2 separate regions of the Homo sapiens genome follow, and region 2 is linked to region 1. The links come from fine-mapping of genetic effects on gene expression. Tissue or cell type: spleen. Region 1 holds a variant in brackets; the other region holds the start of a gene. All regions are shown on one strand. Distances are from middle to middle.

Region 1 (5,372 bases):
CAGGAAATTTGTGCCATTTGCAGTGGGGAGGAGCCTGGCCTTTCCTGTTCCTGTGTGGTGACCAAGGACTCAATCTATGAGACGGGAAACGTGCTAGCAGAACTCTGTCACTTTGCTGAGAGTTATTTTTTCTTTTTCCTTTTTGCCCTATAAATTCCATTTTCCTCACCCTTCTGTTGTGTTCGCAAGCCTAATCTTTCCTGGTCATGTGACAAGAGCCCAGTTTTAGCTGAACTAAGGAGAAAGTTCTGCAACAGTAGTATGCTGTTTCCTCTGCCTAAAATCTCTACTTAAACCTCTCCATCAGAAGGATTTCCACACCAAACCAAAACATCCTTCCAGACCCAGCTCAAATGCCTCCTCGGGGAAGCCTTCCCTCATTCCTTCTCTATCCAGAAGACCTCTCCCTCTGAGATTCTCAATGCACTTGCATGTTTTTAGTTATCTTGAGAGGCTGAAGGCAAAGAGCAGCACATGACACAACACAGGAGCTGAAAATAGGATGACTGAATGAATGACCAAGTAATGAATGAATGGCTAAGTGATAGATGAATGAATTAATGAAGAGATGGCTTGTGCTAAGAGAAGAGATAGCATTTGAATTGAGATTTCAAGAGGGATCAGATTTTCAAACCAGGAATAAGGTAGGTCAAGTTTAGGCTCTTGACAATGCTACACCTCTTAGCCTCGTAGCATTGACCCACTCACGATCTGCTTGCTGGCAGAGAGATTGTCCCACTTCTCCCAAAAATAAGGTTATGAAACCCTAGTGCTACAAGCTTGGGAGGCAGATCTGGGCTGGAATCCTCCATCCCTTTCTCTGGGGTGAGCCAGCAAGTTTACCTAATCTCTCTTAGCCCTCAATTTTCCTTATCTATGGAGTGAGAAAAACAGTATCCAAATTCTAGTTTGGTTGTTAGGATTTAAGTAGATAATGTCTGTAAAACATTTAGCTCTGTTACTGGCACAAAGTAAATGGTAGCTATTATATTATTATCATCACTTCCTCCCTGGGATCCCCAGGGCCTATGATGTTAGTAAGTGAAAGAGCTGCCTGACCTGGTTGCTGCCCTTTGACACATTTTGAATCCCCAGTGACTGCTTCTACTTGCCAAGCTTTTACCTCCAGAAGTCAGGGCCCATGATTTGTGATTTTTCCCCAGCTAGGTGTATGTGTTTTGGGGACCCTGAGGACCTGGGTGCCCCAGGTGACTGAGCCCAGCCTAGGAGTTTATTCCTGGAGAAGGCTCTGCAGTGACCCCAGTGCTTTCTGTGTGTGGATTTTGGCGGGGCAGCTGCTGCTGAGCCCAGGAAAGCTGGGCTGTGAGACCTGGCCCCTCTTGGGTGGACCACAGCCTCCTTGTGTGTCAGAGAAGAGCTGGCCCACCCACCTAGAGAAAGTGAAGGGAAAGCTGGGCTGCTCCAAGTCCAGGCCAGACCAGAATTTATTGTGTGGGTTTCTCTTAACCCAAAAGGTTTCCTTAGCGAGGAGAGGAGGGGAGGGGAGAGGAGGAGCTACAAGCTAAGACTCTTCTACCCAAGCACCTGCTCCATGTTGGATTCTTTGGGATCCTCTACAGCAGGGCCTTTCACGATTTGAGAATGGCCCAGTTCTCTTCTGTCTGTTGAAGCTTCTGCTACATTTTAAAGAAATGGATAAAAGCTATAACGGGATCATAAAAAGGGCAATTTATAAATTATTAATTAATGTTTTTGACAAAAAATGTATAACTGTATAATCACATTGGGAGAAAGTATAGGGCTCACATTTCAGGCTTTCTGGGCAGGGGAGACTCGGGCCCTCCTAGCCCTGCGCCTGCACACCTGGCTGTCTGATGTGGCCCTCCAGGTGGCGATGGACATGAGGGAACATGTGGTATGTCTGAGGAGAGCAGGCTGTGAATGTGAGAAGAAGGGAACTGGCTGTAGCAATACAAGGTGGGTGCCCCTGGATCTGGGTGTGAGGACTCAAGGACCCCAGTCCTTCCTTCCACAGCCTTCCCCAGCCTTGGAACCACTCCAGGCCTGTCTCCTGTTAGTTTGTAAGTGGTCGTTTCCTTGACTCTGGGAACGCAACCAAGTCCCGTTATTGCAGGATGGATTCCCACACCCTGCCCTGGGCCCCAGGAGTGCTGCTGTCCCTACCTGGACTATGGGTTGCTTTCTGGGGCCCTGAATATGGGAAGAGCAAGACTGAGGCATAGGGACCTGAGGAAAGAGAGGGTAGCCAGAATAACCATAAGGATTGTCTCAGGGCCTAGAGAATCTCTGTGTCGAGAAAAGCAGAAGTGATGCCCCTTGGGCTTTGTGTTAGGCGGATGGGTTGGGGGCAGCTGGGTGGGCTCGCCAGTCTAACCAGGCACAGAGCTGACTTGCTTCCTCTCAGACCCTGTGG[C/T]TATCTCTGGTCCAGAGAATCCAGTAGAAGCCTTTGTGCTTGTCCAGAGGCCCAGTGGCCCCCAGGTCTTCCTCTTCACTCCCCAGTCCCCCTCCATCAGCACTTCTCTGCCTAAGGAGCTCCAATAGTCTGATACCAAAGGGCCAGAAGATGCAGGTCCTCAATGCCAGGCAAGGGGTGCGACTTCTCAACAGTAGTGCTTGAAGCTCCAGCATGGATATGTGCAGATTGGTAGGAGGTCATGGAGACTCGGAGGTGCATGCAAGTCGTTGCTGTGGAAACAGCTCAAGTGTGAGGCGCTGGGGGCCAAGGGGGAAAGCAGCGGGTGGAGGAAGGGTCAGCTTCTAGTTCTGTGAGAGGCTGGGAGACTGTTTGAGCCTGGAGACAGGCGGCAGGCAGAGCCAGTGTTAGGCACCATTGCAGCACCATCAGGTCTCCTAGGACAGAAGAAGGGATTGCTTCTGTCCTCTCTGAAGATACCCTGACTGGGAACGGTGGTGGTCTGGGATGTGGGGGGACCCCTGGCCTCTTACAGCTCTGCCCCTGACTCGGTCTTGGGAAATCCACACCATTACTTCCCAAGACTGCCTGCTGGATCACTGTGGCTCAAAATGGGTGGCTTTGCAGAGAATTCTCCTTATTTACGCTCTGCCAATAACTGGAGCCTCTTCCAGGCAGACCATTGTGGGGGTGACTGATAGTGCCAGTGACTACAGTTTAGTCAGCCTGCTAGCTCTGTATTTCACTCCCCTTGAGGAGGTGCTGGCAGAAATCCCAGGAGCCCCATGAGGCTTCCTTTTCTATGCTGGCTGAGGAAGCCACAGCACTGGAAAATTACTGTAAATGTGCGTCTGGCGCCACCTAGTGATCGAGGCCCTCCTGCACCCTGTCAGACAGCTCTCTCAGGAAAGCAGTTTGCCTTCTTGCAGTGCACACTTCCTCAGGCTTTGGTGTGTGTGACGGTCACCTAGGATGCTTGTCAAAAATGAGGACTCCTGGCCGGGCGCAGTGACTCATGGCTGTAATCTCAGTACTTTGGGAGGCCGAAACAGGAGGATCGTTTGAACCCAGGAGTTCAAGACCACCCTGGGTGACATGGTGAGATCCCCCACAAAAATTCCTGGGCTCCAGACCCTGAGGTTTTAACTTAGTTTGTCTGGGGAGGAATCTAATAATGTGTTTTCCTAACTAGTATCTCAGGAATTTGTAAGGCAAGTCTCTGGACTACATTTTGAGAACCAGTCTCTTGAAGGACCATGCCTCTTAAGTGTCTGCTTTGCACAGATCATTATGTGCACTCACTGAGTTTTGAGAACTGTACTGAACACTCCTAAATCTGTATCTTTAGGCAAAGTCTCTTGAGTTTCAGCTGCTATTTTTTGACTGGTTGCTTTCTGTCTCCAGAACAGACGCACAGAATTATCATGGCCAGCTCTGAATTTTTAATCTCTTTACATCATCCCAAACCGCCAAATAACCCTTGTATTAGTCAGGGTTCTCCAGACAAACAGGATGTACATATATTTGGAAAGAGATTTATTAGAAAGAATGGGCTCATGTAATGATGGAGGCTGAGGGGTCCCAGGATCTGCAGTCAACAAGATGGAGACCCAGGAGAGCTGATGGTTGAGTTCTCATCCAAAAGCCAGAAGGCTTGAGACCCAAGAAGAACTGATATTTCAGTGCAAATATAAAGGCAGGGAAAGTTTGTGTCCTGGCTCAAGGCAGTCAGGCAGGAGGATTTCCCTCTTAAAGGAGGGGCAGACATTTTGTACTAATCAGGCCTTCAACTCATTGGATGAAGGCCACTCACAATTAGGGAGCGCAATTTGCTTTATTCAGTCTACTGATTCAAATGTTAATCTCTTCCAAAAACACCTTCACAGACAGTCCCAGAGATAATGTTTGACCAACTTGACCCCATGGCCAAGTCAAGCTGACACAAAAAATTAACCAGCACAAGTCTACTCCTTCTCAACTTGGCATGCATATGCATGTACTTGAACCATGCTAATCTCCAAACAAAGATGGTAACATGGTCATAATTTCACCTACACTGATACAACTGTCCTTTGTACAACAGAAAACACAATAAACCCTTCCACAGAGGAAGAAGCAATGTCTTTGAGCTATGTTCACTCTTCTCTGTGACATACCAAAACTTAAATACTATCATATAAAATTAGCAATACTTAAATACTATGACATAAAGTTAATACATCTTATGTTACATGATAAGGGGAAAAGAGGAGGAAAACAAAGATATTCAACACACACACACACACACACACACACACACACACGCATATGCACACGTATACATATCTTGTTACCTTCTTCCACTACCCATTACATATTTCCCTTATCTTCAGCAAGCACCTCAGCTGTTTGTGGTTCTTTACCTGGTGGGGTGATATAAACCTTTTGTCTGAAGGGTTTGAGCCATTAATAATCTTGTCTGAATTGCGTTGTTTTGCTTTTCCATTGACCTTCATCACAGAGCATGATAATACTAAGAGATATCCTAAGGGATCTACTATATTCCAGAATACTCCTCTTTACCTTCACTGTGGAGCAGTAGTCCAATTTCCCCTTGGTGTCCAGATTGATCATCCCAGCTGACACTGTAACTTCCTTCTTGGGCTGTTGACTTGGAGGAGCGCAACGTGTCTGAGTGTCATTCTTAACTTCCAGTTCAATAGAACCATTGTTGTGTCTCTTGGTGAAGCATTCCTCCCTTTGGAACAAACATCTCTTAGCCACCTGAGCATAAGGCCATAGGAACAGGAAGCAAACATTTTGCTAGTGGGTCATTAAGGGTAGTACTGAGTAGTGTCACTCCCATTTTCATCCCTTGATTCCTGAACCTATAAATCCTGGCTATGAGAAAAAGAGCACCATGTACTAGATGCTGATTCAGAGCATATATAGCTTTGTGGAAAACCTTGCCCTAACCCTGAAAGGTATTGCCACCTAG
Region 2 (5,372 bases), 46 kb after region 1:
AGCTGCACCCACAGCTGCCCCTTTCCCCAGGTGCTCTATCCCAGGGAGATGGGAGTTTTATCTACAAGCCCCTGACTGGATCTGCTGCCTTTCTCTGAGATATGCCCTGCCCAGAGTGGAGGAATCTAGAGAGAAAGTCTGGCTACAGTGGCTTTGTGGAGCTGCAGTGGGCTCTGCTCGGTTCAAACTTCCCAGTGGCTTTCTTTACACTGTCAGGGGAAAATCATCTACTCAAGCCTCAGTAATGGCGGATGCCCCTCCCCTCAACAAGCTCCAGCATCCCAGGTCGACTTCAGACTGCTGTGCTGGCAGCAAGAATTTCAAGCCAGTGGATCTTAGCTTGTTGGGCTCCATGGGGGTGGAATCCCCTGAGCTAGACCACTTGGCTTCCTGGCTTCAGCCCCCATTCCAGGGGAGTGAGCAGTTACGTCTCACTGGCATTCCAGGAGCCACTGAGGTATGAAAGAAACCTTCTGCAGGTATCTCAGTGTCTGCCCAAATGGCCGCCCAGTTTTGTGCTTGAAACCCAGGGCTCTGGTGGCATAGGCACCCAAGGGACTTTCCTGGTCTGTTGTTTGTGAAGACCATGGGAAAAGCATAGTATCTGGGCTGGAATGTACTGTTCCTCACAGCACAGTCCCTCATGGTTTCCCTTGGCTAGGGGAGGGAGTTCCCCAATCCCTTGCGCTCCCTGGGTGAGGTGACGCCCCACCCTGCTTCAGCTCGCCCTCTGTAGGCTGCACCCACTGTCTAACCAGTCCCAATGAGATAAGCTGGGTACCTCAGTCGGAAATGCAGAAATCACCTGCCTTCTGCATTGATCTTGCTGGGAGCTGCATACTGGAGCTGTTCCTATTCAGCCATCTTGCCCAGGTCCCCCGGCATGTTTTTTTTTTTTTTTTTTTAATTGAGATGGAGTCTCGTTTTGCCCAGGCTGGAGTGCAGTGGCATGATATCAGCTCACTGCAACATCTGCCTCCTAGGTTCAAGCAATTCTCCTGCCTCAGCCTCCTGAGTAGCTGGGATTACAGGTGCCTGCCACCACGCCTGGCTAATTTTTTTATTTTTAGTAGAGATGGGGTTTCGCCATGTTGGCCAGGCTGGTCTTGAACGCATGACCCCAAGTGATCTGCCCATCTCAGCCTCCCAAAGTGTTGGGATTACAAGCTTCAGCCACCAAGCCCGGCCTCTACATGGCATTTAAAGGTGAATTTATTATTTTAAAATAGGTTATTTGCAACTACCCCTCTTTCCCACAAAACATCATCTGGTAAGGTGGCTAGACATAAGAACCTAAGTGAATTAGAATTACTTTCTGAAAACTCATTGAAGATCTCTGTGTTAATTGGAGCTATTCAGGTACATGACTAGAATTGGAAATCCCTGGCCTGTTTGAACTTTGAAAGTTCTACATTTTAGAGATGAGAGAGACATGTTTTTATAATGTTCTACATTTCTGACCCTGAGTGCTGATTTGGGTGAATAGACCATTGGCTTTACCCATAGGAACCTGGCTGCCTGAGTCAGCAACATCTGCTCTCTGGAGCCTACTGGGAGGCTGGGGGTGGGGGAGGAAGATGGTCTAGGCCACTGAGTGGGGCAGCAGAGCCTGGGGACTAGGAGTGGTGAAAATCAGCCACATTGAACATATGGGTGTCTTCTCAAGGAAATGTGACATATGCGAGAGAAAATGGAGTCTAGAAGGGATGAGGAAGAGGTGATCAAGGGAGTGAGGGGTTCTTGGAGCCAAGGTTCCCTGATTAAGGCTAGTCAGGGTGGGCCTGCATTTCCCCACCCCAAATGCCCGCAATACTCCTGTAGACAACTCTTAGGAAATTCAGCACTTCATTATACACTGCTTCCACTGGAAAATCCTGCCACGTAAGCAGCTTTGGGTCCCAGCTAGATTGGAGATGATCAGTAAGGAACCCTAATGCTACCAACACAAGACAACTAAGAAAAGTGCAAATATTCATGAAAATCGTTGCCAACTGTTTTGTAATCCTCACCACAATCCTGCAAGGTGGACAGCAGCATCCTCACCACTTTTCAGACAGGTAAACAAAGGCTCAGAAAGGAAACAGTACCTGGTTGGAATCAGCACTGAAGCTTCAGCTACCTGCCTGCAGAGATGTGCTCATCTAGCAGTTTCTAGGAGACTAGGCTGGCGGCAGTGCCTGCTCTGATAAGGGAGGAGGAGGGGAGAGGCTTGCTGTGGTGGCTTGTAGGGGGTGTGTGTGTGTGTGTGTGTGTGTGTGTGTGTGTGTCTATTTGTGGGGTCATTTCCAGGGCTACATGTGAGTTTAAGTGTGTGTATATGGGTTGAGATATGGTGTATATGGATATTTGTCGGTCAGTTCTTGGAAAGTGTGTATATGAGTGTGTGTTGAGTGGGGTTGGGGGGTTAGTCCCTGAGCCGTGTGAATATGTGGATGGGGGCACTCGTGAGGGCAAATGGGCTCGGATTTTGTGCATGATTGTGTGTGTGTGTGTGTGTGTGTGAGCTTGAGATTCCAAGTATGTGGGGGAGGGAGGGGGCGGTGTCGGAGATCAATCCCTGGGCCATGTGTTTATAGTGTGTGTGTCTGCCCAGAAGAGAGTGGGTTACTGGGCTGTGCACGTCTGTGTAGGGTGAGTGTGTGTATGAGGGTGAATGAGTGTGGGAGGTGTCATTCCCTGGTCCGTGTGTAAGAGTGTGACCGCGCACGCCTTCGTGTGTGTCCCGGGTGTGTGGGGTCGGGGCGGTGACGAGGTGAGGGGGACGCCGGCCGAGCCCCGCCCTCCGCTGCAGGTGGGCCGGCCCCGCGGCGGGGCCGGCAGCGCTAGCTGTTCTTGGCTCGCGGCCGCGCCGGGCTCGCAGGGCTGGGCTCGGGCTGCGGGGCGGCGCCGGGACAGGAAGCGGAAAGCAGCAGTGCAGCGGCGGCGGCGGCGGGGCTCTGCCTCTCCAGGAGCCCAGCGCAGGCCGCAGAGCCGGGGCCGCTGTGAGCCGAGACCGCGGGCCGCGGAGCTCGGGCGGCCGGCGCGGAGGTGAGTCCCGCGAGAGGCCGAGCGCTGCGCGGCGGCGGTCCCCGGGGCAGACCGTTGGCTGGGAGACGCCCCCACCTCGGACCCCGCGTGCCCCTGCGCCCTCCTCCCGCATTCGCCCCGCCGGACTTCGACCCCGGGTGGCCGGCTCCCGCCTCGGGCCGGGGGCTCCCTCCCCTCCTCCGGAGCGCTCCGGGTAGTGCTTCCTCTGACTCCACTCTTCTCCCCATGCGTTGCGCCCCTCCTGGCCCTGCCGTGCGATCTCCGCCGCACCCCACTCCTTGGGGTCCCGGGGTTCCCTGCTCACACCTCGGACGTCCCTTTCTCCCCGGGCTGGCCTTTGGAGTGCGCCCCTTCGGTGCGCGTGCCGGGGCGGCGGGCAGGCCGGCAGGGAGTGGCCGAGCGTTGGAGGCACCGGGCGGCTGCAGCAGCCGTGCAGGGCGGGAGCCGGGCGCGCACCGGGGTTCCCACCCCTGGCGGGGCTCGACCCGGGCGCCGCCTGGCCCTTCGCCAGGAACCGGGACAGAGCTGGTCTGTGTGCACACCTCGCTCACAAAAAATTGAGCCGGCCCTGGAGGCCTGGGGGGCGAGTCCGGTTGCGCCTCGGAGAGCGCAACAGGCAGGTAGGAGTTTACTTTCAAAAACGCCGGGGTGGAGCAGAGGCGCCTGGCGGGTCTCTGCCCAAGGTGTCCCTGCTGGAGGAAATCTCACCGCGCCGGGGCAGCCTTCGCCACCGGCAGGACCTCATTTCCTTCTGCAGTCTTTGAACTGCCCCAAGCATCGCGCCTAGAGAAGTGTGAAGCTTTATAAAAATTTAAACGCGTCCGTGGTGGCGGCAGCAGTGGGGCGGAGCCGCGGCCTGGCTGCTGTGTGATGAGCAGATGAGACTTGGAGCTGAGGAATCTGTTGCTCAGTTTTCACTTCTCCAAACCAGGTCTAATGCCCACGCTGCGAAGGTGTTGTGAGCTCTCTTAGATTCTCCTTAGGAAGTGTTAGAGCGCCTTATGATGATGATTGTGTAGATGGCCCATGCATTTTGTTAAAACTCTTGACCTGGCTTTGGTTAGAAATGAATGTATTCTTAGACACTTAGTCCAAAAGCTAACAAACTGTAAAAGAATCTGGCATTTTCACTGACATGTTTATAAATTTTACGGGGCTGCTGAAAAATATTATAACTTGTATCACCAGTCAACAATGCTAATTAGCATTCTCCCGTCAGTGGGTGGGTTGAGTACACAGCTCCCAGGCTCTGCAAGTGAGATGGCAGAAATTGTCTGAATACAGGGAGAGGTAATTAGCCATTTTCTGTAACCACTAATTATAGAGTTTTTAGGGTTGAATTAAATCAATGTGATATAGTTGGGGCTTTGATTTGTGGGAGGAAACTGTTTCTTTTTCCAGTTCAAAGAAATAACACGCTTCACCTATCCATGAGCATTAAACATTCCCAAACGTTGATGTCTCTCAGTATAATTAGTGAAAACACTCAGTGTGGAATTTCACTATTAACAATGTTGGCAGTGAGGCTTGCTTGCAACTTAATTTGTAAGTAAAATGGGAGAAGAATTTTGAGAGTGATATATTTGTAAGGACTGCTTGCCAAGCAGTACATTTTTATTGTCTTATGTATTAAGCAACAGGACAAAACCATAAAGGAAATTTAAAGTTTCTTTACCAAGCAACAATTCCATGTCACCCTTTGTTTGAAGGATAAATGTGTTGAATGAAGAAGGCATCCTCCCCTTCATCATCCCCTTAACACACTTATATACACACACTGTGCTTGCTACCCTAGGCCTTATCAGCTATTTTGGTGGGATGGGCCCTTGTCACATTGTGTTTTAATTGGAGGTCTCCACATTGGGGCTGTGAGCTCATTGGGAGTTAGAACTATTTTAGATCCATTTCTTTTCTCCTGAGTGCCCCACGATGCTTGGAACACTGAACCTGTGAGTAGAAGTTGAAATTGCAAAATTCTTAGTGGGGTTATATGTGGTTTGGGACAATTTGTGATTGTTGCTTATACTCCTCTATATAAACAAACAATTCTAGTAATTGCTACAGTGCTGTCAATTTTCTGTAGCTAAGAACACAGGTTCTGGAGTTAGACTCTCAACGTTTAAGCCCTGGCTCCTGTGGCAGTCTGGTTTCCCTAACTAACATGATATTAATGTCTTATTTTTCTTAAACACTTGTTATGCGGATTAAGTGAGATATTACATGTAAGTGACTTAAAACAGCATCTAACACATAGTAAACACTTGACAACTAGAAACTGTTAGACTATTACCATCATCTCTGTAAAATCAGCTAGCTGGTTAGGGTCTCGCTGTATAGGGCATGTG

Which allele goes with the higher level. Positions count from the first base shown, and alleles are read on the strand shown. Sizes are in standard deviations (SD) of each study's normalised expression.
For the expression in spleen of the gene that starts at base 2,911 in region 2, allele T in region 1 goes with a lower level than allele C (moderate effect, 0.45 SD a copy in GTEx).

What was found.
Region 2: it holds the start of VANGL1, and the variant in region 1 is fine-mapped to the expression of VANGL1 in spleen (GTEx, PIP 0.94).

Annotation. Positions count from the first base shown.
Region 1 is chr1:115,592,756-115,598,127 of GRCh38, forward strand. No RefSeq gene overlaps it. Among named protein-coding and RNA genes, the nearest start is that of VANGL1, 47 kb to the right of the region's middle. RefSeq lists an enhancer at 3,113-3,407. The variant C/T (reference allele first, on the strand shown) is at 2,396.
Region 2 is chr1:115,639,060-115,644,431 of GRCh38, forward strand. It overlaps VANGL1 (VANGL planar cell polarity protein 1), which reads left to right and starts at 2,911. Exons shown (of 8, transcript NM_138959.3): 1 at 2,911-3,027. RefSeq lists a silencer at 2,643-3,632 and an enhancer at 2,768-3,526.